3 linked regions of the Homo sapiens genome follow. The protein of the gene in region 3 binds, or shares a complex with, the protein of the main gene of each other region. Each region holds a gene or a part of one and is shown on either strand. Other genes may lie near its edges.

The links.
Region 1: the proteins of SRRT (region 3) and NCBP2 are in contact, whole or in part, in a cryo-EM structure (PDB 8PMP), measured with the Homo sapiens proteins. Residues at the interface, in NP_056992.4 of Homo sapiens: Asp857, Arg859, Ala860, Ile861, Val862, Glu863, Tyr864, Arg865, Ala869, Asp874; in NP_031388.2 of Homo sapiens: Ser48, Phe49, Tyr50, Thr51, Thr52, Glu53, Gln55, Lys67, Met71, Leu73, Met76, Lys77, Lys78, Thr79, Ala80, Tyr89, Asp107, Glu121.
Region 2: the proteins of SRRT (region 3) and NCBP1 are in contact, whole or in part, in a cryo-EM structure (PDB 8PMP), measured with the Homo sapiens proteins. Residues at the interface, in NP_056992.4 of Homo sapiens: Asp857, Pro858, Arg859, Val862, Glu863, Tyr864, Arg865, Asp866, Leu867, Asp868, Ala869, Asp872, Asp874, Phe875, Phe876; in NP_002477.1 of Homo sapiens: Tyr461, Gln463, Lys511, Lys557, Ser558, Ser560, His561, Ser564, Ala567, Lys568, His570, Lys607, Ile609, Arg610, Thr611, Gln612, Met648, His651, Glu705.

Annotation. Positions count from the first base shown.
Region 1 is NC_000003.12:196,936,145-196,946,593, forward strand, and holds the start of NCBP2 (nuclear cap-binding protein subunit 2), read right to left. Parts: upstream 6,385-10,449; 5' UTR 6,360-6,384; coding exon 6,282-6,359; exon of another isoform or gene 5,815-6,281; coding exon of another isoform or gene 5,791-5,814; intron 4,999-5,790; exon of another isoform or gene 4,830-4,998; intron 3,984-4,829; exon of another isoform or gene 3,733-3,983; intron 3,289-3,732; coding exon 3,107-3,288; intron 1,505-3,106; coding exon 1,366-1,504; intron 939-1,365; coding exon 867-938; 3' UTR 1-866. Other genes in the region: protein NCBP2AS2, read left to right, coding at 6,573-6,872. UniProt on the Homo sapiens protein: Component of the cap-binding complex (CBC), which binds co-transcriptionally to the 5' cap of pre-mRNAs and is involved in various processes such as pre-mRNA splicing, translation regulation, nonsense-mediated mRNA decay, RNA-mediated gene silencing (RNAi) by microRNAs (miRNAs) and mRNA export.
Region 2 is NC_000009.12:97,634,916-97,645,563, forward strand, and holds part of NCBP1 (nuclear cap-binding protein subunit 1), read left to right. Parts: intron 1-5,878; coding exon 5,879-5,967; intron 5,968-6,646; coding exon 6,647-6,747; exon of another isoform or gene 6,748-6,753; coding exon of another isoform or gene 6,754-6,776; intron 6,777-8,288; coding exon 8,289-8,445; intron 8,446-10,201; coding exon 10,202-10,309; intron 10,310-10,648. UniProt on the Homo sapiens protein: Component of the cap-binding complex (CBC), which binds cotranscriptionally to the 5'-cap of pre-mRNAs and is involved in various processes such as pre-mRNA splicing, translation regulation, nonsense-mediated mRNA decay, RNA-mediated gene silencing (RNAi) by microRNAs (miRNAs) and mRNA export.
Region 3 is NC_000007.14:100,868,563-100,879,231, reverse strand, and holds the start of SRRT (serrate RNA effector molecule homolog), read right to left. Parts: upstream 4,130-10,669; 5' UTR 3,904-4,129; intron 3,887-3,903; exon of another isoform or gene 3,782-3,886; coding exon of another isoform or gene 3,779-3,781; intron 3,669-3,778; exon of another isoform or gene 3,660-3,668; coding exon of another isoform or gene 3,642-3,659; coding exon 3,520-3,641; intron 1-3,519. Other genes in the region: TRIP6 (thyroid receptor-interacting protein 6), read right to left, coding at 5,929-6,060, 6,488-6,608, 7,511-7,689, 8,489-8,658, 8,769-8,862, 10,366-10,669. UniProt on the Homo sapiens protein: Acts as a mediator between the cap-binding complex (CBC) and the primary microRNAs (miRNAs) processing machinery during cell proliferation.

The sequences.
Region 1 (10,449 bases), on a different chromosome or scaffold from region 3:
TATTTAGAGGTTCCCTCTATGACAAACCCTTGCTTTTTTTTAGCTTTAGGTATAACACTGACATCTTTTGAAAAACGTGTTAGTAAATACTCAAGTTCTGGCCTCATTTCCTGATGTATGAAGCATGGAAGCAGTGCTGTCCTGTGGAGATTGCTTTTGCACCAACTACACAGGAAGGTCCTTGACCTCTAAGCATGCCTTTAGAGGTTAGAATTCACAGAAAACAAATTCAATTGTCAAACACCTGTTCCTAATTTTGTGCAAAGCAATACAACATAGCACAACTCCATTTGTTGTTTTTCGTTGTGCTTTGTAGAGACGGGGTCTTGCTATGTTGCCCAGTCTAGTCTCAAACTCCTGGCCTCAAGCTATCCTTCCTCCTCAGCCTCCCAAAGTGTTGGGATTACACGTGTGAGCCACCATGCCTGGCCCCACCTCCATTTATTAGGCTATCTCATGCAAACTTAAAATTAAAAAAATAATCCCAGGCCCCAATGTAGATCATGAACCTACTTAAGACTCATTATGGTAAAAACAAATTCTTACATTTTTCTGTCTTTCTAAAAGTGTAGTGGTTATGGCTAAAGACTAATCAACATTACAGATCCAATCTGTTGTCAAAGAACACAATTTCTGACCTGGTAACAAAATTGTTCTGATAATCTGACACATGGCCAAGATTCTCAGACAAGAATTAAAGGCATTCTTTTGGATTCTGTCCTTTAATAACTTTCAGAGGCTTCCAGCTCAGTAAAGACACTGATCAAATCTTGGTAAAAATGGGCTCGTGTGCAGACTTTAGGTGATGTTCTTCAGCAAATTCAACAGGCCAAAGGAGTGTTTGTCACTGACAGAGCTCTCACCACTCACTGGTTCTGTGCCAGTTTTCCATAGCCTCCTCTCCCAGCATCGTAGTCCTGCCGATACTCATCCCGAACCTTTAATGGAAAGAATCCAGAGTTACAGTATGGAAAAGAATGGTGTAACAAATATGCCTCCCACAAACATGTTAGACAAACAGTGAAACCTGTTCAGATGCCACAATGTGAACATTTCAAGCAGGACATATGCACTTCAGCTCACTTCAGTGCGTTTTGCTTTCATTTTAGATGTTCCTGCAGGTGGAAGATACCTAGCCCTAGCAGAAGTTCAAGAATGGTTGCTTGTTAGAAACGTACAGAACATACCATTTCACGGTTTAAAAAAAAAATTCACCCAAACCGTTGGGTGGTTTTCAGATCCACTTCAAGCCAAGGTTATAGACACAAAGTTATTTACAAAAGAGTAAATACAAATTGCCAAAACACCTGTCATTGTGACTGGAATCCCAGGCAATGGCTGAGCCCAGAGACCCTTCTTGCATACCTGGCCCCCAGATCGCCCACGGCCGTATTGCCTGCCCTCCTTAAAGCCTGCGTCCCAGTCTGTGCGAATGATTCGGTCATCCAGACGCGTCCCATTTATGTACCGCATGGCGTTTTCCGCATCTGCGCGTGAGTAATATCTTAAGTATTAAGGAACACTAGCATTTTTCCAAACATTTCTGGAAATAGGGGAACAACATGTAAATGAAGCTGAGTTGTTAAAAAGTACAAGAGCTAATCCAACCAGATGGAGTTCAAAGACAGTAATTCAGCTTGCCCAGGCCTGTTTGCGATTGGTTTGGAAGCACATAGAGTCAAATATGACACGTATCCATGGCTACACTGATCATATTTCTTGGACATTCCTGTTGATAATTTTTGGTCCCATCATCTCTGTATTTTGGTTTGCAAGTTTAGATCACTGTACACTTCTTATCCAAGAAACCAGTGCTGTATATTCAAGTTAGGTTCTGTACATTCCAAGGCACCCTAATCAAGAGAAGGTCACCGTGCACGTGGAATTGTGCTGCACTTCACTAAAGGAAAGACTCAAGCTGTCACCAAGGTAGCAGTTCCCAAACCTACTTCATCAGAGACCTCCCTTTAATTAAAGGGGAAGACATTTAATCTCAGACAAATAAAAATAAGACAACAGTGTTCTGAATAAACCATCTGGAGAAACTAGTATCTTTGATGTTAGCAAGCCAAAATAAAATCTCTTTTCATTCTAGCATTTGGGAAACCTGTGTATCCCCGAGGCAAGCCTGCAATCTGGGAGAGAAGCCCTGCCTGGGTCCAGTGAGTCAGCATTCTTTTCCTTAATTATGAGCAGAAATCCAGGGATCACCAGACACTTAAGGAAAAATTTCAACCGAAACAAACATAATTCAGGGCACAGGAAAAAATTCAAAAGATATATTAAATTGGGCCTGCAAAATTTCTCAGAATATTAAATTGAATGACCAAAACATACAGTAAAAAGAACATAGGATAAATCCAAGAGGTCCAATACTTAAAAGAGTCTGAGTAAGGGAATTAAATGATCAAAGTAAATAGTTTTGGTTTGTACCTATACAGTCAGGTTATATACATCTATATAATGAAATACTATACAGCTATTTACTTAAAAGTTTTTTTCTTTAAAGATGGGGTCTTAACCCGTCACCCCCGCTGGAACACAGTCACAACTCAGTGCAGCCTTGAAATCTTGGGCTCAACTGATCCTCCTGCCTCAGCTTCCTGAGCAGCTGGCACTACAAACACCAGCCACCATGCCCAGCTGTACAGCTATTTTAAAAAAAGACCTACATATGCTGAAATGGAACAATAAAAAATAAAAAAATGATTTTAAAAACAGCACATGAAATACACTACCGCACACCCACAGGGTTACTTCTTGAAAGACGCCCAAGAAACTGGTAACTGACTGCCTCTGGCAAAGGGCATTAGGGGTTTAGAACAGTACGAGATTTTTATATTTTCACTACATTCTTTGGAATTTTTTTTTTTTTACGTGAAGGGCAAACATTCTTGAAAAACTTTTTGTTAAAGAACCATAAAGCATGGATTTCAGAAGAGAATATAAATAGTATCAGCTTTACAGTATAAGGGCAGAGACACACTGGGTGGAAAGTAGGAGGGAGATGAAGGAAAACGTAGGGACGAGTGCAGGGACGCTTATGAGCTACCACTCTCAGCTCTACCCTGGTTCAGCAGCTACATTAGATCCATGGGAAGGATACTCCACAAAACAGAATCCACATGCTGTTTTCTTCATTTTATCCAGACCCATAATGATTTTCTTTATGTCACCACTTTTGCTGAAGAGTTCATAGATTTGTTCTTCAGTTGTGTAAAAAGAAAGATTTCCAACATATAACGTACAGCTTTTCTTCAGTAATTTTTCTTGTTCTTCATTGTCACCCTAGAATTTCAAATAGAGACAAAAGTTAAGCAACTTCAGAGCCTTGCTTAAATAGTATTTCTAAGTACGGTAGAGACATTCATTAATTCTGGTTTGGAAATCAACTTCTCTCATCCCAGCCTACCAGAAATCCCTTGCCCAAAAAGGGGGATGTCGACCTTCTGTGAAGCACTTATGCGAAGTCCAGACTCTTAGTAGAGACAGGGCTCAAAAGTTATACCACATACAACAAAGTCACTTCTACGCCCGACTGCCACGCAAGCGGCTTCCCTTTTCCCTGCACACACCATATCCTCAGCAGTGCATCCTTTAAACCCAAGTGTAGACTCTGGACCTTGACCCAATATATGACAAAGGGCCCTTTTATCCTTCGTAGTGAAAAATAAGTGGGTTTTCAGAGAGAGAGAGAGTTCCTCTTTAATAACCCCCTAGAGACTGTTGAAAGCCACAACCTTGATGCTTTACGTGCTCATAGATCTTTCTCTGAGTTTAGGGGAAAATGTAGTGATCACTAAAAACAAAACAGAGCTCACTTTCTTAATGGGCTTCCAAATTGGGATGACAGGATGAAGCCAGAGACTTAAGCATATAACTGGGCTTCATCCAACACACCTGACAGACAAAGCCCTGGGTCCAAAATGGCTCATCGGGGTCAGGCGCGGTGGCTCATGCCTGTAATCCCAGCACTTTGGGAGGCTGAGGCGAGTGGATCGCCTGAGGTCAAGAGTTTGAGACCAGCCTGGCTAACATAGTGAATGAAACCCTGTCTCTACTAAAAATACAAAAATTAGCTGGGCATGGTAGCAGCGGGCGCCTGTAATCCCAGCTACTCGGGAGGCTGAAGCAGGAGAATCGCTTGAACCTGGGAGGTGGAGGTTGCAGGGAGCTGAGATTGCACCACTGCACTTGAGCCTGGACAACAAGAGTGAAACTCTATCTCAAAAAAAAAAAGTCCACAGGACAATAGTCATTGTATGTTAAAAAGAGGTTTTCGGAACTTTGGAGTGAGACATTAGAGAAAGTAAATTCCTTTCATTTTACTGCTGTTACTGATTTGTGAACATGGAAAGGAGGCATCTTCTTTTTCTACTTTTCTCACACATGTAAGTAAGATCCAAATAAATAGCCTACAGTTTAAGATAACTGTGGTGTAAGTGCTTAAAGTATATTAATATGGATTCCATTCACAGAATGCTAGAAATTCCACATGACAGTATGGCATTAGCATCTAAAAAAAGCTACAGGTTTAGACTGAGGAGATGAATAATAGACAAAGTCAGAAGGTTCCAGTTTTCATCTCACAGGATGCTTTAAGTTCAAAATGGTCAGGATGTGGAACTGTCTAAAGTAGTAACTAAAAGTGGTAGAAGTGCAAATCATGCCTGGCACTTAGGCATCCCAGCACTTTGGGAAGCCCCAGGCAGGTGGATCGCTTGAGTCCCAGAGTTCGAGACTGGCCTGAGCAACACAGGGAGACCCTGTCTCTACAAAAAATTAGCTGGATGTGGTGGCGCGAGCCTGTGGTCCCAGCTTCTCAGGAGGCTGAGGTGGGTAGGATCACTTAGGCTCAGGAGGTTGAGGCTGCGTGAGCCGTGATTGCGCCACTGCACTTCAGCCTAGGCAATAAAGCGAGACTCTGTCTCAAAAAATAAAATACATTAACTGAATAAATTTTTTTTTTTTGAGAAGGAATATCGCTCTGTTGCCCAGGCTGGAGTGCAGTGGCGCGATCTCACAGCAACCTCCACCTCCCCGGTTCAAGCGATTCTCCTGCCTCAGCCTCCCGAATAGCTGGGATTACAAGCGCCTGCCACCACGCCCGCCTAATTTTTGTATTTTTAGTAAGACGGGGTTTCACCATCTTGGCCAGGCTAGTCTTGAACTCCTAACCTCGTGATCCACCCGCCTCAGCCTCCCAAAGTGCTGGGATTACAGGCGTGAGCCACCGTTCCCAGCCTTGACTAAATAAATCTAAGAGCTTCCCTAATTTAGCGTCAAACAAAATTTCCCTTTCCCTACTCTAGTAACACATTTCACACATTCTCCACACTTACCCTCTGCTATATGCGCCCCTTCCTTTCCCAGTCACAAGGGGATTTTTCCCTTTTCTGAATCCTCACTACAGGGGATTATGAGCTCGCAGAGCGCAGAAACTGTCTTCCCTCTCCCTCTAGGGTTTAGCACAAGGATTTGGCGACAGCACTCGATAAACGTTTACTAAATAATTGGGTTAATGAGTCCCGCCCCGCCAACCCCCAACCGTATTCCATCCCTACCTCCGCTGATACTGAAAAGTCTACTTTGAATATCTGCTGCCTCCCCTTTTTCCACAAAATATACTGTGATATAGTCCGGACTAAAAATTTCCCTCTTCTGAAATCCAGCAATTCTCCGATCTTTACATCCGAACACCCTCAAAGTGCCGAGCTTGGCGGGTCCACCTCCCCACTCCGAAGCTTCCCCGAGGGCGGAGTGAGGACTCCACTTGTGTCTCCCACGCACCGCGTACAGCTTCCGTAACACCATCCTCCCAGAGAAGGGGCCCGAATCGCCGAAGGGCACTGCTTCGCCGATTTAAAAAACAAAGCAAAAAGCCCCGCATCTGCATCAGGAAGGCGCCTCTGCCTACTCTGGGAGAGAGAAGGGCACCCCTCCCCCTTGCTACGTAGTCGTCTGCGGAGGCACAACCGTGGAAACGGGAGCCGCCACCACCACCACCGCTCAAACCTCTCGGCACTGGCTGGGGTACAGGGAGCGGCTGCGAGCGAATGGGATAAGCGAGCCTCCAGTTCCCCGTCTTCCAGAGCAAGTGGCTTCAGTGATATCCAAGCGCCCTTCCAGCACCCATTCCCTGCCTCGCCAGCAGGCACCGGGGCCCCACTTGGCGTTTGCGGATTTCAGCTGAATGGGAGGCGACACAATGAGACAAGAGCAAACCGTTTCTCAGCGTTCTTGCCCAGGGCCTTCCCGTCTCGCGGCCCGGCCTCCCTCACCCGGAAGTGCTGGTCCCGGTACTGGCTCAGCTCCACGTAGGAGTCGCTGCGCAGCGCCTTCAGGAGGCCACCCGACATAGTGCAGAGAAGCGGACCACAATGCGGCGACTCCCGGCACGAGGCTGCGTCCGCGATGGCGGAAGCGGAAACGCGCGGAGGCGAGCATCTCATTGGACCCAATCCGAGGGCGGCGTGTCGTCATCAAGCTGCGCGGGGGCATAGACGTCCGGGTCGGGCGCCGCGGGGCGGAAGACGAGGGCGGCGAGGTCGGGTTCCGGGCGCTTGGAGAAGATGGTGCTGCGGCGGCTGCTGGCCGCCCTGCTGCACAGCCCGCAGCTGGTGGAACGTCTGTCAGAGTCGCGGCCTATCCGACGTGCGGCGCAGCTCACGGCCTTCGCACTGCTGCAGGCCCAGCTGCGGGGCCAGGACGCGGCCCGCCGCCTGCAGGACCTCGCGGCTGGGCCCGTGGGCTCCCTGTGCCGCCGCGCTGAGCGATTTAGAGACGCCTTCACCCAGGAGCTACGCCGCGGCCTCCGAGGCCGCTCGGGGCCACCACCAGGTAGCCAGAGGGGCCCTGGCGCAAACATTTAATCCTGGGCTGTGCGGGGCCGAGGCCGCTTGCTTTTCCTTCCGGGCTCTACAGTGGCATCAATGTGGAGGGGTCATTCCGGGCACTGCGCGCGGCTTCGAATCCCGACTGGGATTGTTGGCCTGCAGACATCCCACGCATAAGAGCCTAGGCCAGACCGCCCGCTCCGTTGAAGTCTTGTGATTGGACAAGACACAGTGTGGAGACAGCCCTAAGCCTAACAGAGATGAAGGTAGGCTGGGTCCAGACACGGCACCTACGGAGAGCCACGGACCGAAGCCAGAGAGCCTTTCCTCTGCAAGTGGGACTGAAACTCTTGACAGATGCTGCTCAATCTGACTGGTATAGCAGGACAGTTAATTCCAGGGACGATATGGATGAAAAGACAACCCTACAGCTGCCAAATTCCTTTGATTAAATGTGTGAGCTGGTTGATAGGCATGAGTGTGATACTTCTCAGGCAAGATGTGTTAAGAATACCGGGGACTGTAGGCCTATGGTAATAATAAACACGTATTTTATGAAATGAGTCTTCTGTGCTGGGACTTGCTCATTGCACTCTATGTGTTATCTCACTCCTTACAACGACATTCACATGAGGAAGCAGATTACTTTTTGGATTTTTTTGTAGAGATGGGGTGGTCTCGAACTCTTGGGCGCAAGTGATCCTCCCGCCTCAGCCTCCCAAAGTGCTGGGATTATAGGCAAGAGCCACTGCGATGGAAACAGAGGCTGCTGCTTAAGTTGCCCAAAGTCTTGCAGAGTGGGATGTGAGCAGAGGCATTTGACTCCAGGGCCTAAGTCCTTAACACAGCTCTGCAGCATTTACCCTGATACTCAACCCCTTCCTTCCCCAACCCCCCACCATCAGGCATTAAGACTACTGCCTAGGGGCAGGGCCTGGTGGCAGTTGTGTCTTATCCCAGCCACTGCAGAGGCAGGAGGATCGCATGAGCCTGAGATGAGACCAGCCTGGGTAGCATAGCGAGAACCTTTCTCAAAAAAAAAAAAAAAAAAAAAAAAGACTACTGCCTGCCATGGAACAAGTTACCTGGACTCCTATCCTGTGGGGAAAAGAGAGATCAGATTGTTACTGTGTCTGTGTAGAAAGAAGTAGACATAGGAGACTCCATTTTGTTCTGTACTGAGAAAAATTCTTCTGCCTTGAGATGCTGTTAATCTGTAACCCCACCCCCAACCCCCTGCTCTCTGAAACATGTGCTGTGTCCACTCAGGGTTAAATGGATTAAGGGCGGTGCAAGATGTGCTTTGTTAAACAGATGCTTGAAGGCAGCATGCTCGTTAAGAGTCATCACCACTCCCTAATCTCAAGTACCGAGGGACACAAACACTGCGGAAGCCCACAGGGACCTCTGCCTAGGAAAGCCAGGTATTGTCCAAGGTTTCTCCCCATGTGATAGTCTGAAATATGGCCTCGTGGGAAGGGAAAGACCTGACCGTCCCTCACAGCGTGACACCCGTAAAGGGTCTGTGCTGAGAAGGATTAGTGAAAGAAGAAGGAACGCCTCTTTGCCGTTGAAACAAGAGGAAGGCATCTGTCTCCTGCCCGTCCCTGGGCAATGGTGTAAAACCCGATTGTATGTTCCATCTACTGAGTTAGGGGAAAACCGCCTTAGGGCTGGAGGTGGGACATGGGGGCAGCAATACTGCTCTGTAAGGCATTGAGATGTTTATGTGTATGCATATCTAAAGCACAGCACTTAGTTCTTTACCTTGTCTATGACACAGAGACCTTTGTTCACGTGTTTATCTGCTGACCTTCTCTCCACTATTATCTTATGACCCTGACACATCCCCCTCTCCGAGAAACACCCAAGAATGATGAATAAATACTAAGGGAACTCAGAGGCCGGCGGGATCCTCGTCTGCTGAATGCCGGCCCCCTGGGCTCCCTTTTTTCTTTCTCTATACTTTGTGTCTCTTTCTTTTCCAAGTCTCTCCTTCCACCTAACGAGAAACACCCACAGGTGTGGAGGGGCAACCCACCCCTTCACTACCCCTCATTTTAGAGGGTCAGGGATACAGACAGACTACGATCCAGCCAGTTAGCAGACCTGCGATTAGGAAATCCATTGTATATAGAAATGTCCTGTCATTTGAAGCTCCTAGCTAAATTTCTGATTTTTTTTTTGAGACAGGACCTAACTCTTGCCCAGGCTGGAGTGCAGTGGCACAATACTAGCTGTCACTGCAACCTCGACCCGTTGGGCCAAGCGATCTTCCTCCCTGGGACTCCCAAGTAGCTGGGATTACGGGCCCATGACACTATGCCCAGCTAATTAAAAACTTTTTTTCTGTTTTTTTTGTTTTTTTGAGACGGAGCCTTACTCTGTCACCAGGCTGGAGTGCAGTGGTGCGATCTCGGCTCACTGCAACCTCCACCTCCCGGGTTCAAGTGATTCCCCTGCCTCATCCTCCTGAGCAGCTGGGACTACAGGTGCGTGCCACCATGCCTGGCTAATTTTTTGTATTTTAGTAGAAACGGAGTTTCACCACGTTGGCCAGGATGGTCTCGATCTCCTGACCTTGTGATCTGCCCACCTCGGCCTCCCAAAGTGCTGGGGTTACAGGTGTGAGCCACCGCGCCCAGCCACAATTTTGTTTTGTTTTGTTTTTGGTTGAAATGGCATTGCACTTTGTTGCCCAGGCTGGTCTTGAACTCCTGGCCTCAAGCAGTTCTCCTGCTTCCGCCTCCCAAAGTGCTGGGATTACTGGTGTGAGCCACCACACCCAGCTCTGATCATTTCTAGTTAGGCAGCACAGTTAATCATGCAATCTAGAAAGCTTGAAGCCATCGGAAAAATTGAGGCTGGTAACCAGACACTAGCTGAGTGTTGTGTGTTCTCTGCCCTCTGGGGCAGGATGGGAGGGCTTGAGACCCACAGTTCTAAGGAGGAAGAACACCTGGCTCCCTAATCTGGGAAAATGACCCCCTTTTTTTTTTTTTCCCCCAAGACGGAGTCTTGCTCTGTCTCCCAGGCTGGAATGCAGTGGCTCTCGGTTCACTGCAACCTCTGCCTCCTGGGTTCAAGCAATTCTCCTGCCTCAGCCTCCTGAGTAGCTGGGATTACAGGTGCGTGCCACCACGCCTGGCTAATTTTTATATTTTTAGTAGAGATGGGGTTTCACCATGTTGGCCAGGCTGGTTTTGAACTCCTGACCTCGAGATCTGCCTACCTTGGCCTCTCAGTACTGAGATTACAGGTGTGAGCCACCATGCCCAGCCAGGAGAATGACTCTTAAGGACAAGGTGCAGAAATGGCTGGAGAGTTTCCCACCACCTCTCAGGAACAGGAGTAAAAGAAAGTAGGGAGAAAATCTCCAGTGCTATTATATATTTCAAACATTACTTGTTTGCATAATAACCAAACACTGAGACAGCAGGCATCAGAGTGCCATGAAGTACAACACAACTCCCACTTCCATGCTTGAAGAGCTTTGTGAGAGCTGTGCCTGTTGAGGCAGGGGACGTGTACTGTGGACTCCAGGAATGACACAATGTTAGCCGGCAGACACCTCAAAGTTCCTCTGATCCCAACAGACTGGGAAGTGGGGTGG
Region 2 (10,648 bases), on a different chromosome or scaffold from region 3:
TATATCTTCTGGTTTTTGTGAAGGTTAAATGAGGTAATACACATCAGCAACAATGATGTTTTATCATTTGCCAACGCTTAAGAGGCGGTAAACGTTAGCAGATGCTGTCAATGTAAGAAAAAAACCCATAACAGACATTTTAAATTGAGTAAATTTTATCTACTAACGTTTGTCTCTCCTTGAGTGTTGTGGCAGTTGAGGTGGAGGCAGAATCGCATGCATTTAGTTTTAATAGTGAAACACCAGATTTCTACGAAGGAATGGCTTGAGAGGATATTCTAGTCCAGCTTTCTATCTGACACCTAAGGGTCTAGAGACTGAGCATAACTAAGATGGAGGGACAGCTGTCAGTTCCCAAACACCAGCAAGAGCGAATCCAGTCCGGGGCTCTCTTCACTACACAGGTATAAATTAAATAACTATGCTGCGTGCTTTGATTTCTAACACGAGGTTTCTTGTGTAACCTCTGTACAAGGCACAGAAAATACAATTCCCTCCCTTTTTTTTTTTTTTCTGAGACGGAGTGTCATTCTTTGTCAGGCTGGAGTGCAGTGGCGCGATCTCGGCTTACTGCAACCTCCGCCTCTCAGGCTCAAGTGATCCTCCCACCTCAGCCTCCTAAGTAACTGGGACCACAGGCGCGGGCCACCACGCCCGGCTAATTTTTTTTTTGTTTTTGTATTTTTTGTAGAGACGGGGTTTCGCCACGTTGCCCAGGCTGATCTTGAACTCCTGAGCTCAGGTGATCCACCCGCCTCGGCCTTCCAAAGTGCCGGGATTACAGATGTGAGCTACTGCGCCCGCCGATAATACAATTTTCATATGCTTTGTAATTGACTAGTCAAAAACTAATATACTTCTCAAGTCATTACTTGGGGGCTGGAGAACTTGAGTCTTTTGTTCTTTTCTTTGTTGTTCTAATGCTTCCTTTTTCTCACTTAGAGGTAATCCCTAAAGAGAGAGGAAATGTCATTGTAGGGCATCCTAGAGAATTGGAATGCTAATATGTAGAAAAATAACTTTTGCTTTGGTTATTGGGAGACTTACATAACTTTCTTGGAGTTGGCTTGTTTTTAACACCAGCTGGCAGCCAAATCACTGTCCATTTGGGTCTTGCCGCGAGAACCTCAGAGTAAATAAGACAAGTAAAACAAAGCATTCATTAAGCAAAGGTTTTTATGGTTGATATTTTAGTGTGGGAGAGGCAGATACAATTCATGTTTGATAATACAGCAAATCTGAAATTTTTGTCAGTTGCCACAATTTGGATAACGATCGCTGGAGTTTACCCTACACAGTGATCTGAATCAGATTATTTTGGATGCTTTCCTTTTAGTTAAAAATCTATTTTTTAAAAAATAAATCTTAGAAGCTTAAGGATTATAGAAGGCTATTTTAAAATAGGGTAGGAATTATTACAGTCAGAATTAAATAGATGCATCTGAGCATTTCTGGACAATTGTCAGCTGCTGTCAGTCACTGCCCTGACTTTCCGTATGCTTGACTCTCTATATATAGAGTGTGTGTATATATATAAACTATAATAGAATGTATTATATATATTTATATATTATATAAATTTATATTTATATATTATAAATTTATATTTATATATTATATAAGTTTGTTTATTATAAGTTTTATATAAATATATACTCTAATATATATTTTACATATAATTATATACTGTATATATAGAAGCAAGCATATGGAAAGTAATACATATATATATATATATATATATATATATATATATATAAAATCATTTATTCAACAAATACTTAACAGTGCCAAGCTCTGTCCTAATTACTTGCCATACAGCAGTGGACAATATAAAGATAGAGCCTCCCCTCTAGAGTAGAGAGAAGACAGTCAAGTAAAGTATAGTGTATCATATAGTGACAGGCGCTATGGAGTGATACCAGGTAAAGAGGGGAGAGATTTCTGTGAGGGAGAAGTTACTATTTTATGTAAGTTGATTAGAGAAGGCTTCGGTGTGAATGGCATTTGAACAAAGACTTGCCGGAGGTAAGGTAGCAGCCATATAGCTGTATGGGGAAAAGCTGTGATCCAAAGGTAACCATGGGCACAAAAGCCTGAAGACTATAGGGTTCCTGTCATGTTAACAGAAGAGCAAGGAGGCCAGTGGTGCTGGAGCAGAGTGAGTGAGGGGGAAGTTGTAGGAGATAAGATTAGAGAGATAGCAGAGGGTTGCATCTTATAGGGAGATTATAAAATTATACTTCTGTGTTGAGACTCGACTATCAAAGATTAAGGGGGGTAGGATTAGGAGGCTATACCAATGAAGTTCATGTAGTAGTCCATTTATAAACAAGGAAAAGGAAATGCTAAATGGAAAGTAATGTGTATGGATACTAGTCCAGTGCTAAATCTTAACTAATTGCTTAGACTTGCTTTAAAAATGTCTCTGAAGCTTTTTAGTTACTATGGGATATGCAGTCCATTGTTTGTTCTTTTAAGAAAGTATTTAGATTGTTCAAAATCTTAGCTAGAAACAATACGAATACAATTTTGGGAATTTGGGCAATTTACAAAAATTTCAGATTTGCTGTATTAGCCCCATTTAAGCTTCTTAGAATTAGGTCCTTGTCTTTTGGACTGTGGCTGATTTTTTTACTTAACTAAAGAAAAAAATAGAAGTGAAAGGATTTGTTATTTTGAGAGAGTATAGTTTATTTCAGAAGTGATGGTTGCCTGTTTTAAGTCTGCGGGCTCAAGGCATGTTATCTTTCAAGTTGTTCAATATCAAAATAGATGAGCCAAAAAGAAGGGAACAGTGTGCTTAAGGTTTAAAAACGTAATGTTGAAGTTGTTGGTTTTAGTTACTTTACTTTTCTATTTTACAGGGTTGGTTTTTGTTTTCCATTTTGTGGGTCTAAAATTTCTTGTAAGGCTATAAGATGTACAGTGTACCCGTATAAAATTAGGATTGACTTATAGAGGGGAAATTTATTTGGTTTATTAAGATCCTTTCAGATGGATTTTATACCTGCTTCTCTATACTAGCCAAGTCTGTCTGAGTGAAGTGGTAATGTTATCTTTAATTTACATTTTAAAACTTTTACATAGTTAAATTTTAATAAAAAATCTGTTCTTGCCTTGGGAACTACCATAGATACGTTTTCTTCAGGGTACATTGAGCGAATTCCCCAAATTGTATTCGTATTGTTTTATTTCATTTCCCTGTTCCCTTACCCAGGTTGTCTTATGAGTTCAATATCATGTTTCTGTTCGTAAGTTCAGATTTTGTCTGTAGTCTTCACCCCTTTATAGTCTCTCAACTATCAGGTGAAAGTGGAACATTTCTTACCTCTTAATACTTTCTGCCTCCTCCCATTCTCCAGACAAATATTGTCCTTTAATATAGCCAAAATGAACAAAGGGTTTGCAGTTCAGAGATGTGACTATGTACATGTATTTTCTAGTTGTTTCTCAGAAATCATACCTTCTCTTCCCACAGCACTATTTTCCCCTTTTCAAGCTTATAAGAGGGCCTAGGAGGGTTGCTTTAAAGGCTGTGGTATGATTCCAAACTGGAACAAGCCAGCTGGAAAGTTAAGTTAGGAAGACTGTAGAGGTGGAATAAAGGGTTGGCAAAATAGATGAGCCAGAAAGAAGGGAACAGTGTGCTTAAGGTTTAAAAAACAGCAACAAAAAATAACTGCTCTCATTCAGCTAGTTTTTCAGCATCTGCATTCTCCCAACCTCACTGAAATTTGGTTCTGAGGAGCTCTGCTTTCTAGAATACGGTTTCTTAACATCAGCACTATTGACATTCTTGGCCAGTTATTTGTTTTGGGAGATGCCCTATGCAACGTGAGATATTTAGCAGCATGCCTGGCCCCTACCCACTAGATGCCAGTTGCTTCCCCTAGTTTTGACTACTAAAAATGTCTCCAAGGTTTGCCAGATGACCACTGGGGGCAAAATCTACACCCTGTTGAGAACTACTGCTGTAGAAGAAGGCTATTTGAATGTCCTAGCTGGCAGCTTGCGTAAATATTACATCAATTATGCTTTTTTTCAATAAGTGAATCCTGGAAATGAAAGACCTTTGTGTGAAATTTGGCACTTTGGGTGGTGGAACCTTGATAGGTCCTGTGACTTAGGTTTGATCTATACTTAAGAATCAAGGTCCCTGAACCTCTGTGCCACACATGTCTACAACTTTACACAGGCAGATATCTCCAGGAATAAATACATCTCAGCTCTCATGCTGCATGCGTATTATACTTTTTGTGGCATTATCCTTTCAAAATTATAGTCAGTGGACATTCAGTCAGGTTATCATGGTAATTAATGGGTTGGGAAGTTGACGTACAGAGTGTCTTACCCTGTAACCTTTATAATACCCCCCCTCAGATCCTATGTGGATAGTAATAGATTCGTTTTATTCAGCTTCAGTTCATGTGGTATCTGAAGATCATTTCAGTCATTCAATAGATTTAACATTCCAAGCTTAGAATAGCCAGGTGCTGTGTTTTATGAGAATCACCATACATCATTTTCAAGCCAAGTGTTCCATAGGCAAGTAAGTGATTATGAACTTTGTAACAATAATTCCTTTGGCTGTTCAGATCTGAAGATTGAAGTTATATGTAACTTGCTACTGTGTAACCATATATCCAACTGCAGATTTTCATTATTAATACCGATTCCCTGCACAGTTACAGGCTCTTGCTTTCTTGTCCATATGCCGACCAAATAATTGAATCAATGGAAGTCGAAAATTGGATTGTATTAGACTAGCCAAAGTGTTTAGCAGCAGCATCAGGTTCCATACTTAACACTATTATTTTAATTTTTTAAGCTTTATGTTATACCACAAAAGGACTTAGGTGAGTGTGTTAAGGCTTTAAACAAAGTGGTAAGAGATACAAACAGCAAGGGTCTTAATAGACAGGTGTTTGAGGTTAATTTTTAGCACACCTTCATTCAACTTGAATTGTTGAGCAATCAAAAAGACAGATGCTTGGTAATGATTTTAGAATGGTAGATTTAAAAAACATAGAGATTATTCGAATGATATGGTTTTTAAATAAAGCAGTTATCAGTAATTCAGTTAATAAAAGCTAGTTAAAGCAGGAATTGTAAAACGTGGTCCTTTTTTCCACCAATTTTTTGATATAGTGCTCAGGACTTTTCTTTGAATATACGTATACTGACTGTCGTTCCCATTATTTAGGATAAACTATACCGTTGTGCTGCATCATATGCAGAACTGAAATTGTTAATTGAAGACTTGAGATTAGAGCTTAGAAACATGTGAAGCAAGTGAGAAATCCTAATGTTTTATGCTCCTTTTTCCCATCTTTTGAAGCTTTCCTCTTTATAGCTGATATGACAGCTTTTTTTTCTGATCAAGTCTTTCCAAAGCATTCGACTTGGTTTTGCACCCTTATTTTGTCATTTACATAATACATTATTAGACTAATGAATACTACTGGTACTAACAGGTTTCGGAACAAGCAACTGAGGATCAGTAAACAACTCAAGTTAAAAGAATGGGAGTAGCGGTACATGAGTATTCTAACTACTAGTGTTTAACATGTTGTTGGCAGCTTTCCAGCTTGTCCACAGAAATGGACAGGGCTGCTGATTGCATAGCTCCATGGGCACTACTCACACAAAATTTAACATAAATAATGCCTCCTGGAGTTATTGTATATAGTGGCTCTGGGAATGGGAGGCTGTTGGTTAATCTAGCTTAGTCTGAGAAATGGAGGGTCTGTGAAGAGCTTCTACTCTGTAAAAACATAGGGCCTGGTAGAAAAGAGATTATAACCTAAAAAGGTTAAATAAAATTTGTGATAGCAGATTTATCATGTAATGTTAATTTTTTATGTTGCTGAAATAGGTGGGCAGCCTCACAAAAGGAGAAAGACCTCTGATGCAAATGAAACTGAAGATCATTTGGAATCTTTAATATGTAAAGTAGGAGAAAAGGTATGTCACACAATAGGCACAGGCTGTGATGGGTTTAAGAATGTGGTTAACTGTGCTTTGATTAATTTTTGCAGCTGAAAAGTTGGACTACATTTTGGCAAAGCTGGTATTACCATGCATCTGTATCCCAAATTGAATCCATGTTGAAGCCCCTGGGATGTAGATAATTGATCATTTTTAGTACTTTAGTAATTAATAATTTTCATAGAAGATGAGCCCTTAGAAGGGACCTAGGGTATAGACCCCTTAATTTATGCATGAACTAAATCAGCCCTGAATACTTGAGGTAATTTGCCCAGAGTAAGAGAGTGAATTAGTAAAAGAGGTAAAATGGAGCCCATGGTGTCCTCCCATTTCTAATACTTATTCTGTTATCATAGACTGCTTAGTTTTTAAATTTCACTCGTCCACTTTTCATGGATTTCTGAAGAACAATAACTATCTGAATTGATTTATACTAAACCCATTATAGCTCTGTATGCATGTAAGACTATTTTAATGATCATGCAGAAGTTTTTATTTTAGTTCACTAAAATAGCAATTGAAAGGACAGATGATTGGTAATGATTTTAAAATGATAGATTTTAAAATATGTATATATTTACATTTAAATAGATTTTTAAAAATAAATTTATGTTGCTGAGTACTTGACAGATATTTAATGTGATGTCCTCTACAGAGTGCCTGCTCTTTGGAGAGCAACCTAGAAGGCTTGGCTGGTGTTTTGGAAGCTGATCTTCCTAACTACAAGAGCAAGATCTTAAGGCTTCTTTGTACAGTGTATGTATGCAAAAGATTTATGAATCCAGGTGATAATGTATTATCTACTCTTAAATGCTTTGGGAAATGTTCAAAATACATGTTTATGTTCTATATGTCCTTGGCTTTACTTCTATGGGGAAATTTGTACAAATGAGCCAACCTTTGGCGCTTTGGCGAACTCTTTTTCTTAGGGATAAAACTAAAATTGAACATTTTCCTTGTATGTTCTTACAACCTTAGAATCATTTTAGTTGACTTTTTATAGAGATAGTAGATACTGTCTCATTCAGATATATATTTTTAAGCATGTACATTTAAATGTATGATACTTACATTTTTAAATTAGTACCAGACAAATTTGGGAATTGGTAACTCAGGTAATAGCCCTTCTTGGAAGACTGAAGATGCTTTGGAAGCCACTGTTAATAGGCATACTCTCTGGATAAATGGGAGTCTTTGTAGTTACATGAAATTGTAATGTATCCATGAGGTGTTTTTAAATTATGAAGGTGATGTTTATCACTTCTCAGCCTTTTAGTTTAGATCAAGTGAAGGTAACTTTAAGAAACTACTAAGGAAATCTTCTGAAATCCTTTATTAAAATGGAGTAGTATTTACACTTAAACTGTTGGAAGCCTTGTTTGTTTAAGGCTGAACTTGTATTGCTTCGCAGTGTTCTTTTTTAATTTTTGGTTTTGGGAGGGTTTCAGGGACCACAGTTACCATCAACACAGGTATTTTTTTTGAAGACCTTGATTGTCCCTGATGTTCTGCTAGGTACTTTAGGAAAACAAGTCAAAGAGAATCTCTTGCCCACTTAATGATTATGAATTCTTATTGCTTTTTGAGCTAATTCTAAAGGCTGCCTAAATTAGGAAAAATTGCTTTTTCTAAAGGTTTATTGTAATCCTTTCCCATACTTTTAAAATAACTTTAATGAAATCAGCACACTTGGAGTAAGCAACTGAGACGTAAACAAATCTTAACTATATCAGAGTATGTTTTTAAAAAATTCAATAATTAAACTGGTAGGAACTTAGATGAAACTCGTTTTAATTGTGCATCTTTTCTAAACAACTAGAATAGTGTTTCTCAAAGTAGAATTCTAGTTCCATGACATTTGGTTAGCTAAGTTTAGAAATTCTGAATGCTGCACGCCCCCCCTTAATGATTCTGTATTAAAGAGGCTTGTTTCACCCAGGATTTCTGAGCTATTTTACCATGGAAACCATGTTCTGTGGAAATGCTATTCAGTTCCACTAAGCACACTTGAAGAAAAACTGTTGTAGCATTAGTTTTATTTATTTCAGTATGATAACTTTACAATTAAATCATTTACTTTCTTAACTCTTAGATTAACTGATGAATTAAAATGAAAAATTACGGGACTATGTCTGTAACATTTCTCAATGACATGCTTTTTCTGAAGTATTTTTAAAGACATAGCTAAAAGTAATCCTGTTCCAAAGTTAATGGAATGATAAAAAGATTCACATAAAATTCAGCAACTTAACGCCATTGTTTTGGGGTTTTCTTGTTATACTGGGTTCTTAAATCAGTGCACGCCTATTACCTGAGAAGCTGACAATTTATACAACATTAGTTGGACTACTGAATGCCAGGAATTACAATTTTGGTGGAGAATTTGTAGAAGCCATGATTCGTCAACTTAAAGAATCATTGAAAGCAAACAATTATAATGAAGCCGTGTATTTGGTAAGTTAGTTTGTTTGTTGGTATGTTATGACTACTGTTGGGATGGAGGGAAAAGGTGAACTACAACCAAATAATTTAAAATGCTCTCCTAAAACATTCTCATTCACTTTCATAGCTTCATAAGCCACCTTTATTTTGACGATACCCCCAAATCTGTAACTGTATCTCCAACCTTTCTCCTGAGCTCCAGTCCAGTATTCCAGATGCTAGCTGCATAGCCTTCAGATACCTTACTAGGAAGTGCCTAAATTAATGCATCATTCATACCTCCTTTTTTCTGCCCTCTCCCCAGCTCATACAGTGGCCACTGTGTACTGAATAACCCATCTAGAAAGCTGAGCATTAATTTTTGTCTTCCCTTTGCCCTCTCGTACCATAGGTGTTCCCAATCCCTGTCAATTCTGTCTCCCTAATTTCTCTCAAGTCTGTCCTTTCTTAGTCTCCAGGGCCTCTAGCATAGTTTATGCCTTCCTCCAGATGTTCTTAATAGCCTCTTAACTGATCTTTTTGCATCTAGATTCTCTGCTTTTCACTTTGTGTTCTACAGTGGCACCAGACTGGTCTTTCTATAACTAGGCTCTGCACATGTTGGTTACTGGTTAAAAAAACCTTAGTTCCTTCCCATTGTCTACAGTGAGTGGTCTTAAAAGCCTGGTGCACAAGATGATTCCTTGGGTTTCAGGAAGTGAATATTAAGAACTCTTATTTATCTTAAGTGGAAATGAAATTAAACCTTACTAATAATACATAGATTAATGGTGATCCAGTGTATATCATAAATACATATGTATGTGTTGAAGATATGTGATCAAATTCTTTTTTACTGAGTACACAATCAAAAAAGTTTGGACACCCATCAGGCTATAGGATTAAAGTCCAGACTCTTTAGCCTGACCCTTTATGGTTTCCCCAGTCTGTTTCTCTATTCTTGTCTCCCATATGCTCCCCAGCAATATCAAAATAACTTGCAGATCCCTAAACACACCTTGTTTTTGAACCTCTATGCCTAGACTGCCCTCCTTGCTCACTACTTGAGGCTGTTGCTATCCTTTATGACCTAGCCTAATTGTTACCTCCTTTGTGATGCTTTCCCCAACTCCCTTTGTCATTGTTCCTAAAAAATGCTTAATTTGCCTTTTAGTGTGGGAGTCATTCCTTTGTATTGAGATTGTGCTTGTTCCACTAGAATGGGTCCCCTAACAGTGACTTTTAGTAGTGTTTAGCAATAGCACACTAAGCACACCCAATAAATATGTGTTCTGTAATTTCCATTTCTGTAATTCAGTGAAAATTACAGCCAAACAGAAAAGGAGATTATAGGTTGAAGTAGCTAGAATATTTTACAATCTGGATTCTTGATGTAGTATAGCATAGAAACGTATGAACTCACAGATTACTGTCCTTTATATAGTCTTTGTTACAACTTCTCAATTCTGCCATTGTAGCACAAAAGCAACCATAGACAATATGTAACTGAATGAGCGTGGCTATTCCACTAAGTTTACTTATGGGCACTGAAACTTGAATTTCATGTAATTTGTATATGTCATAAAATACTCTTGATTTTTTTTTCACGCATTTAAAAATGTAAAAACCATTTTTAGTTCCCAGCTATGCAAAAAACAGGTAGTAGGCTAGATTCAGCCCTTAGGCTATAGTTTTTTAGACCAATAGTTTAGCCTATACAAGATTGCTTATTTTGTAGTTATTATAAAGAACATTTAGGTTTAATAGCAGAAATTGTTTGCCCCAACAGGTCCGTTTTTTATCTGATCTTGTGAATTGTCATGTGATTGCCGCCCCATCAATGGTTGCTATGTTTGAAAATTTTGTAAGCGTAACTCAGGAAGAAGATGTACCTCAGGTAAGAGAACCCCTCATGCTGAATCTTGAGGGGTTCTTGAGGGGTTACTGAATCCTGGTACTTCCATATAGTACCAGGAATTTTTCGCTGATAACCCATTAGCAATAAAGAAAAAAATAACAGCAGACTATCACACTTTAAGTTCTTACTATCTAAAAATTAAGCTGACTGGCACACTGGTGGGTTCTCATAATATCTGTATGTTGATTTAAATGATGCTGTCTAGTAAGATTAGAACTAATATATCTAGAAATGCTCTGTATAAACCAGATGTCTTATTTAAGTCCTATTAAATAGCTTCCATAGGATTTCATTCAAGAATAAATAAAATATGAATGA
Region 3 (10,669 bases):
GTAATCCTAGCACTTTGGGAGGCCAAGGCAGGCAGATCACTTGAGGTCAGAAGTTTGAGACCAGCCTAGCCAACATGGCAAAACCCTGTCTCTGCTAAATACACAAAAATTAGCCGGGCGTGGTGGCAGGCACCTGTAATCCCAACTACTCGGGAGGCTGAGGTGGGAGAATCGTTTTGAACCCGGAAGATGGAGGTTACAGTGAGCCCAGATCACGCCACTATACTCCAGCCTGGGCAGAGTGAGACTCCATCTGAAAGAAAGAATGAAAGAAAGAAAGAAAAGAAAGAAAAAGAAAGAAAGGAAGGAAAAGAAAAGAAAAGAAAGGAAAAGAAAAGAAAAGGAAGGAAGGAAGAAAGTAGGTTAGCTGGGTGTGATGGCATACACCTGTAGTCCCAGCTAATCAGGAGGCTGAGGTGAGAGGATCACCTAAGCCTGGGGAAGTCAAGGCTGCAGTGATCTGTGGCCATGATCGTGCCACTGCACTCCAACCTGGGCAACAGAGTAAGACCCGTCTCAAAAAAAAAACAGAAAATCAGGCCTCATACTGATAAGGAGTTGGAAAGGCCTTTTCAGATTAACTGTAGATATTCATTTTGGATACTACCCAAAATTCAACAAGAGGTAGGTTCTTTTTTTTCTTTTCTTTATGCTACCTTGTCCAAGAAGGAAGTAGTTTCTCACAGGCTAGTTAGAACCTTCAATCTGAAATAGTATCAGTGAATATTTCTTTCTCTGCTGCATTAAAATCCACTGTTCTATCTTTCCCTTTCAATGGACCTGGATTATGTCTCACCCAATATCAAAATGTACTCATCAGCATCACTGCCTATCTCACCAAGAAAGTCTTTACTTAATGGGAAGCTGTCAAGCTCACATTAGTAGAAGTTTTCCAAAATTTTAATTTCCTTTTTTTTTTTTTGACAGGGTATCTCTCTGTTGCCCAGGTTGGAATGCAGTGGTGCCATCAAGACTCACTCCCACCTCCACCTCCCAGGCTCAAGCCATCCTCCCGCCTCAGCCTCCGGAGTTGCCGGGACTACAGGCATGTGCCACCACCCCCAGCTAATTTTTGTATTTTTTTGTACAGACAGGTTTCACCACGTTGCCCAGGTTGGTCTCAAATTCCTGGGCTCAAGCAATCCACCCACCTTCGCCTCCCAAAGTGTTGGGATTACAGGCATGAGCCACTGCGCCGGCCCAAAATTTTAATTTTCACTGGAAAGTTCTACTTCATCACTGGCAACAAATACCAACAGCTTACACTGAAGTAACAGGTTCTCAGTTCATTTTCAAGATGTCTGCCAAATACCCAAGTATGAACAATCACTGTTTGTCATTCATTCAAGTAAAAATAACATCCCATGGAAAAAAGCTGTTAGTTCAGCTCACTCAATCACATGCGTACTCTTGCTCAAGACAACTAACGCGGGCCTGTAATCCCAGCACTTTGAGAGGTCGAAGCAGGTGGATATGTGAGGTCAGGAGTTCAAGACCAGCTGGCCAACATGGTGAAACCCCATCTCTACTAAAAATACAAAAATTAGCCAGGCAGAGTGGCACGCACCTGTAATCCCAGCAACTCGGGAGGCTGAGGCAGGAGAATCACTTGAACCCAGGAGGTGGAGGTTGCAGTGAGCTGAGATCGCCCCACTGCACTCCAGCCTGGGTGACAGAGCAAGATTCTGTGTCAAAAAAAAATTTTTTTAAAAAAGACGTACAGTCAAGAGTCCAATCTAATCAAATTTAAATGTTTTACTCTTTCATCAAGAATCATTGATGGAAGTGGCTTTTTTTTTTTTTTTTTTTTTTGAGACAGAGTCTTGCTCTGTCGCCAGGCCGGAGTGCAGGGGTGTGATCTCAGCTCACTACAACCTGTGCCTCCTGGGTTCAAGCAATTCTCCTGTCTCAGCCTCCCAAGTAGCTGGGACTACAGGCGCGCACCACCATGCCTGGCTAACTTTTGTATTTTTAGTAGAGACAGGGTTTCACAATGTTGGCCAGGATGGTCTCAATCTCTCGATCTCGTGATCTGCCCGTCTCGGCCTCCCAAAGTGCTGGGATTTCAGGTGTGAGCCACTGGGCCCGGCTGGCTTTTTTTTTTTAACTCTTTGCTGTCACTGCCTTGATGTTTGGTAAAGCATCAGCGGTTTTACCCATCATTGCTATGGCACCAACAGTGGAAATGGCAATAATATGTAAACATTACCACAAAAACTAATTTTAGCCTCGGAGACCCCCTATGGTCTGTGGACATCCTGAGAAACAGGACTCTAACCAAACTAGAATATGCTAAAATCACACGTTATGTCCACAACTCCAAGCTGTTCATGTCACTCGTGTCTGGGGAATTCCCACTCATCTTTCCAAGTCTAGCCAAGTGTCACTTTCCAGTGGGTCCCTGACACACAACCTCCAGCACCGCTCCCCTCCTTTAGAGATCTGTTCCCTCAATGCTTACCCTCTTTATAACTTCCACTATATATACTCATTTACAGAATACATCCACTGCCATTCTGATCCCCCATGCCAAGCTCACTGTAACACCCTAAGGTCAATAACCACATCTTATAATCAATCCAATCAGCACCGCCCTATGAACTCTGAGATTTTAGGCAAAACAGTGACAAGAAACCTAATCATATATTGTCAGGGAAATAATCTGACGACCTCTCCAGTCAGATCAACTCTATATTATTATTTTTCTGAAGCAATCCTCCTAAAATATAATTTACAACCTGGGCAACAGAGCAAGACGCTGTCTCTACAAAAAATAATTTTAGACCAAGCACTGGCTCATGCCTGTAATCCCAGCACTTTGGGAGGTCGAGCTGGGTGGATTACCTAAAGTCGAGAGTTCCAAACCAGCCTAGCCAACATGGTGAAACCCCGTCTCTACTAAAAATACAAAAATTAGACGGGCGTGGTGGCAGGTGCCTGTAATCCCAGCTACTCGGGAGGCTGAGGCAGGAGAATTACTTGAACCCCAGAGGCGAAGGTTGCAGTGAGCCAAGATTGCGCCATTGCACTCCAGCCTGGGCGACAGGGCAAGACTCTGTCTCGAAATAACAATAATAATTTTTAAAAGTTAGGCGGGCGTGATGGCCTCCCCCTGGAGTCCCAGCTTCTCAAGAGGCTGAGGCGGGAGGCTCGGTTGAGCCCGGGAGGTGGAGGCTGCTACGACTGCATCAATGCACTCCAGCCAGGGCAGCAGAACAAGACCCCATCTCAATAACAAAACAAAAAAAAGCAAAAAAGCACGCTTTTCGTGCATGTATAAACAGTGCTTCTTCATACTCAAACTCTTAGCTCTATAGCTCTGATCTGCAGAGAATTTCAAAAACCAAGCCACAGCTAGTTATTTGGCCAACAGCAAATAGGCTGAACCACAGAAAACGGTCCAATGAGCCATTTCATAGGATTCGCCCTCATAAAAATTACAAGGGGGAGAAAGAAAAGCGACGCGGGTGGAGTGAAACGGCATGAAACGGGGACAAGATGAAGTTAAAAACGGCTCACCTGTCATTCCAATCGTCCCCTCGACGTCTTTCATCTCTCTCGCGGGAACGGTCGTAGTCGCTGCGCTCTCTTCTGAACTTGTCCCTGCGCCTTCGATCGTACTCGTCATCACTGTCACCCATGGCACGGTCTGAGGGGGCCTGGGGACCGGGGAGAGGCGGTAGGAGTGGTGCAAAAGGACGAGCGGAGGAAGGGACCGTCCCTCGCGGGCAGCTCGCCCGCTTCCCTCCCGCCAAGGCCAGCCCTCCGCGGCCCCCACCATCCTAGGCCTGAGAACGCGGCTCCAACACCTCCACTCGCCCCGAGTTTCTCCGCGCCCGCCCCCGTGGACCCCGGTTCCTCTCCCGCCCCAGCGGGGCCCCCCAGGCTCCTCCCCTCCCCCACCTTGGTGCGGCCGCGGCCGTTGGACTCGCGCTCGGACGGGCTAGATTTCAGGGCGACCTGGGTCGCGGGCGCGCGACGAGGACTTCGAGGAGGGCGAGACGGAGACGGAGCTCTTGAGTAGAGGGCCGAAGAGAGGCGAACAAAAGTGGGACAACCGGGGATGGGCAGTAGCGCGCGCAGCCCGCGCTGCGCCTGCGTCACCCACGCCTCCGAGGCACAAAGCTCCACCCTCGCGGCCGGAACTGGAACTAACAAACCGAGCGCGAAGGGCGGGGAGAGCAGGGCGTGATGGGAAAGGGGCGGGGATCTCGCAAGTCTCGCGCGGCTTTTCGAGACGATAACGGCTCGAGCGTTAGGAACTACGGGACCTCGGCTGGGCCAAGCGCGGCCTCGGGAGGCGAACAAGCCCTCTGGGCGCGAAGGGAGAGCGGAAGTCGAGGATCGCGCGACCCCAGATGTGTCGGGGTCCTAAGACGGTTCTCATCCAGCCATGTTCCCCCCACGGGCCTCCTGACCTCACCGGGGGTGATTTCGTCCCCTCCTCGGGCAGGGCGTGGGCTTGGGAAGCGCGGGCGCTTAGGGGATGGAAGGTGGAAGCAACCATTTTAAAGCATCGTATCCCACCATTTTCTGCTCCAAATATCCAGCCAAAATTGGGTGCCACAGTGCGCACTAAATGCAAAGTCCGCCGTTCCTGCTTTTCCTCGACAAAGACGCCCCGTCTTTAAGTAAAATTGGCAGATCTCAGTCTTAACCCCGCTCAGTATTTGGATGAAATAGGCTGTAAGTTAACGCCCTAAACAGAGTATGGACCGCCCAGATTCAATGGATTACCACCCCCGGGAGTAACACCAAGGCCCCTCTCAGTGAATTGAGTGTGAGACTTAATAGGAAGACCAGCTGAGATGGCTCACGCCTGCAATCCCAGCGCTTTGGGAGGCCGACGTGGGAGAATCACTTGAGCCCAGGAGTTGGAGACCTGCCTGGGCAACATAGCAAGGCCCCTTTACAGAATATTTAGGGCCAGGCACATTGGCTCACACCTGTGATCCCAGCACTTGGGAAGGTCGAGGAGGGAGGACTTAAGCCCAAGAGTTCAGGACTAGCCTGGGCAACATAGCAAGATCCCATCTACACACAAAAAAATAATAACTGGGCTTGGTGGGATGCCCCTGTGGTCCTAGCTACTGGGGAGGCTAAGCCAGGAGGACTGTTTGAGCCCAGGAGTTCAGGGCTGCAGTGAGCCTTGATTGCACCACTGCACTCTAGCCTGGGGAACAGAGTGAGGCCCTGTCTCAAAATAGATACATAGAGGAAATCTTGCCTCCTCCCTGAGGCGTGCTTGCTCCCAGCACTGAGAGGAGGGTAGTGACGGATTACAAGAGTTGTCAAAAAAAACTGGACCTGAGTCAAAAAGACCCAGGTTCCACCATTTAAGAACCATGCAATCTGGGGGAGTCACCTCTCAGCTCTGACATCCTCACATGTAAAAATGCAGACAGTGGCCAAGGGCGGTGGCTCACGCCTGTAATCCCAGCACTTTGGTTGGGTGAAGCGGGCAGATCACTTGAGGTCAGGAGTTCAAGACCACCCTGACCAAGGTGGTGAAACCCCGTCTCTACTAAAAATACAAAATTAGCCAGACGTGGTGGCGGGCGCCTGTAATCCCAGCTACTCAAGAGGCTGAGGCAAGAGAATCACTTGAACCTGGGAGGCAGAGGTTGCAGTGAGCCGAGATGGCACCACTGCATTCCAGCCTGGGTGACAGAGCCAGACTCCGTCTCAAAAAAAAAAGAAAAAAAATGCAGGCAGTAACAATGACTGGGCCTGTAATGGGCTACTGGGAGAATCAGATGAGACAACAGACTTGGAAGTGTTTTGTAAACTCGAGGGATTATTATTTCTTGATTGGAGAAAGAGAAGACAGCATTTGGTGACAAAGTCATACAGGTGGATGTCAGGGAGAGTGATCAATCAAAGGATGGGAACTGGAACTGAGAACCCAGCAGGTACTTCTAGGAAGACTCAGCAGTCAGTGGTGACGGTGGCTGAGAGCTCCTGGATGCGCCAGGCGCTGCAGGCCTTGCACAAGATGTGCCCATCCAGCGGGTAGCAGCCCTGACACTCGCCCTCAGAGGAGAGCAGCAGCCCACACTCCTGTTGAAAAAGAAGCAACAATTGGCCGGGCGCGATGGCTCACGCCTGTAATCCCAGCACTTTGAGAAGCCGAGGCAGGAGGATCACAAGGTCAGGAGTTCAAGACCAGCCTGGCCAATATGGTGAAACCCTGTCTCTACTAAAAATACAAAAATTAGCCAGGCATGGTGGCCAGCACCTGTAATCCCAGCTACTCAGGAGGCTGAGGCAGGAGAATCACTTGAACCCGGGAGGTGGAGGTTGCAGTGAGCCAAGATTGTGCCACTGCACTCCAGCCTGGGCAACAGAGCAAGACTCCGTCTCAAAAAAAAAAAAAAAAGAAAGAAGCAACAGGTTTCCATCAACCCCAGACCTCTGTGTTCCCCCTCATGCTCTACCCAGCACCCTAGACACTGCCAGCCCCTTGCACGTGCTGGGGGCCCCTGACCTCGCACTTGTAACAGCCAATGTGAAAACTTCGATCCAGAGCAACAATTCTCACAGTCTCCTCCTGACCTGGCTCAGGCATTATGGCCCCACCGCACACTGAGCATCTTGGGGCAAACTTCCTGCAGGGGAAGAGAACCAAGAAGGCCATCAAGCCTTGGGGTTGCAGGGCACCAACAATGGAACCCAGAGAAGGTGGGGCACAGGAGGGAATCAGAGAGGCCAGAGGTATGGCCTTAGGTCTTGGGGAAGGGACGATGTCAAAGAGAATGAGAGAGGCTAGGTGCAGTGGCTCTAGCCTGCAATCCCCCGACTTTGGGAGGCCAAGGCAGGAGGATCACTTGAGGCCAGGCGTTCAAGACCAGCCTAGGCAACACAGCAAGACGCTGTCTTTATTAAAATACAAAGAAGAAGACTGGGTGCAGTGGCTTACGCCTGCTATCCCTGCACTTTGGGCGGCCGAGGCAGGTGGATCGCTTGAGCTCAGGAGTTTGAGACCAGCCTGGCCAACATGATGAAAGCCTGTCTCTACTAAAAATACAAAAAAAAAAAAAAAAAAAAAAACTAGCCAGGCGTGGTGGCATGCGCCCGTAATCCCAGCTACTGGGGAGGTTGAGGCAGGCAAATCACTTGAACCCAGGTGGTGGAGGTTGCAGTGAGCTGAGATCGTGCCACTGCACTCCAGCCTGGGTGACAGAGTGAGACTCCATCTCAAAAAAAAAAAAAAAAAAACGAAGAAAACTAGCCAGGCATGGTGGCGTGTGCACCCGTAGTCCCAGCTACTCAGGAGGCTGAGGTAGGAGGATCACTTGAGCCCAGGAGTTGGAGGCTGCAGTGAGCTATGATCATGCCATTGCACTCCTGCCTGGGCAACAGAGTGAAACTCCGTCTCTAAAAAATAACAATAACAAAGAACGAAGGAGGGCCAGGGTTGGAAACAGGAAGAGACAGTCCTGGGGCATGAAGAGATGAGAGAGACAGGAAAGGTCAGACATTGTGAGACAAGGTGGAGGCCAGGCCTGACCTGTGAAAGTCCTCAATGCAGTGGATCTGGCTCGTAGCATCCACTGTGAAGGGGATGCCGTCGAGGCCGCGGTGACACACCACGCAGGTGAAGCAGCCAGGGTGGTAGGCCTTCCCCATAGCCCGCAGGATCCGGTCCAGGATGGGCTGGGAGCACGTGGCACATTTCTCCAGGGTGGCCTGTTGGGAAGGAAGGCAGGAAGATCTGGGAGCGGGCGGGAGCCATGGCAGCTCAACAGGAACCCCAGCAACCCAGCCATCTAATTTCTGCAGCCTCCTGCATGCAGCCTCCTGCATGTGATTCGGTGAAAGGCAGACTTGAGCAGATCTGAGTTCAGGTCCCAGCACTATACACGGTATTTAAACACTATGAGAAAAACAGGAATCAGGCTGGGTGCAGTGGCTCACGCCTGTAATGCCAGCACTTTGGGAGGCCAGAGTGGGCGGACTGCTTGAGGCCAGGAGTTTCAAAACAGCCTGGCCAACATGGCGAAACCCTGTCTCTACTAAAAATACAAAAATTAGCTGGGTGTGGTGGTGGGCACCTGTAATCCCAACTGCTCGGGAGCCTGAGGCATGAGAATCGCTTGAACCAGGGCAGGCTGAGGTTGCAGTGAGCAGAGATCACCCCACTGCACTCCAGTCTGCGCAACAGAGCGAGACTGTCTCAAAAAAAAACAAAAAACAAAACCAGGAATCAGTAGTAATACCTGCCTCACAGGGGTGTCATGGGAATCTAACACATTCTCTTTAACTGTAAGATGCTCCACACTTGTAAGAGCTGCGTCCTTCCCTTCAGCCACCAGTGTTAAGCTACTTGCTTGATACTTGCAGAATTCCGCCCTGTTTGTACATCACTTTCAGTCGCCTGGCTTTTAGCACCGTTCCTCCTTTGGTCTTGGACGCTCTAGTTACCACCTTGGATGGAAGCCCCCTGCATCCAGCCACTGACTCCCTCCTCCCAGCCCCAGCCACTCACCACGTAGCAGCCCTCGCAATATGCCCTCCTCTCCACGGCGTAGAAATGCTGGCCGCGAAGCTGGGCCCGGCATGTAGAACATACAAAGCAGCCCACGTGAAAGACGCGATCAAGGGCCACAACCCCAGCCCCATCCCCAACCACATCTTCTCCGCAGCCACCACACTGGCCTGAGGACAGGGAGAAACAGCATCAGTCTTCACAGACCCAGGAAGCCACTGTCCCCTCTGTCTCCCAGCCTCCCTTCCCACGTCCCACCCACCCCACAGCCTCAGCTCACCAAAGTACTCCCCGCTGGGCGGGTGGTTCATGTCGTGAACCAGCTTCTTCGTCAGCCTATCCAGCTCATCCTCTGGAGGCTGGCTCAGGGGCACCTGGAAGGTGGGAATCGGGCTCGGTCCTACTCTAGCTCCTGATGCTGTAATACCAGGGCCCTCAGCCGCCAGGCCATGGCCTGTTAGGAACTGGGCCACACAGCAGGAGCTGAGCAATGGGCAAGCAAAGCTTCATCTGTATTTACAGCTGCTCCCCATCACTTGCATTACCGCCTGAGCTCCACCTCCTGTCAGATCAGCAGCGGCGTTAGATTCTCATAGGAGCATGAACCCTATTGTGAACTGTGTGTTCGAAGGATGTAGGTTGCAAGCTCCTTATGAGAATCTAATGCCTGATGATCTGTCACTGTCTCCCATCACCCCCAGATGGGACTGTCCAGTTGCAGGAAAACAAGCTCAGGGCTCCCACTGATCCTACATGATGGTGAATTGTATAATTGTTTCGGTATATATTACATTGTAATATACATTGTAATATATACCGAAACAATTATATATACTATATATTCTATTATTATTATAACAGAAATAAAGTGCACAATGAATGTAATGTGCTTGAATCATCCTGAAACCATCCCCCTCCCACCCCCTCCCATCCCCCTCCCCAGTCCATGGAAAAATTGTTTTCCCCAAAACTGGTCCCTGGTGCCAAAAAGATTGGGGACTGCTATAATGTCTCTGAAGGTGGCCAGGCAGTTCCAGCTAGAAAGCTCATCTGAGAACATCTCAGCCCAGGGGCCCGTAGGCAGTTCTTTTTTTTTTTTTTTTTTTTTTTTGAGACAGAGTTTTGCTCTTGTTGCCCAGGTTGGAGAGCAGTGGTGCGATCTCGGCTCACCGCAACCTCCACCTCCCAGGTTCAAGTGATTCTCCTGCCTCAACCTCCCGAGTAGCTGGGATTACAGGCATGTGCCACCATGCCTGGCTAATTTTGTATTTTTAGTAGAGACGAGGTTTCTCCATGTTGGTCAGTGTGGTCTCGAACTCGTGACCTCAGGTGATCCACCCACCTCAGCCTCCCAAAGTGCTGGGATTACAGGCATGAGCCACCGCGCTCAGCCCCAATGGGCAGTTCTATCCTGCTCCCCCGCACTGCCCTGCCCTTACCTATTCCACGTCCCAGACCTCTGACTCTGCTCCAAAACCAGCCCCTTGGCCAGGCGCGGTGGCTCAGGCCTGCAATCCCAGCACTTTGGGAGGCTGAGGCAGGCGGATCACCTGAGGTCGGGAGTTCGAGACCAGCCTGGCCAACAAACTGGGGTTTTAGTGAAACCCCGTCTGTACTAAAAATACAAAAATTAACCAAGCGTGGCAGCGTGTGCCTGTAATCCAGTTATTCAGGAGGCTGAGGCAGGAGAATCACTTGAACCCGGGAGGCAGAGGTTGCAGTGAGCCAAGATGGCACCACTGCACCCCAGCCTGGGCAAACAAGAGCAAAACTCTGTCTCAAAAAACAAAAAAGCCCCCTAAAACACCACCAGCCACCCCACCCAGTCGGTGTCCCATTGTCTGTAGGGCCTGAAATCCCAGTTCCCCAGGGCTCACCTGGGGCCCGTGCTCGCCTCCTCTTCCTCTTCCTGCAGGGCCAGAGACCCCAGCAGCTTCCTCTTTGGCCCCTGGCCCTGGCTCTCTCTGGCTCCTATAGCCAGGCCCCCAGACTTCACCTCGGCCTGGGAGAGGAAAGTGGGGGCCCGGGAGGGGCCCAGAGGCCTGAGAGGCTCCCCGCCTGGGTGGGCCGCAGCCCCTCACTGGCTGTGCCACCTTCACTTGCACGGGGAAGGCTGGGCCAGCCGGGGTGCTGGCGGTAGTGTAAGAGGCTGGAGTGGGGCCCCCATAGGGAGACGCTGGG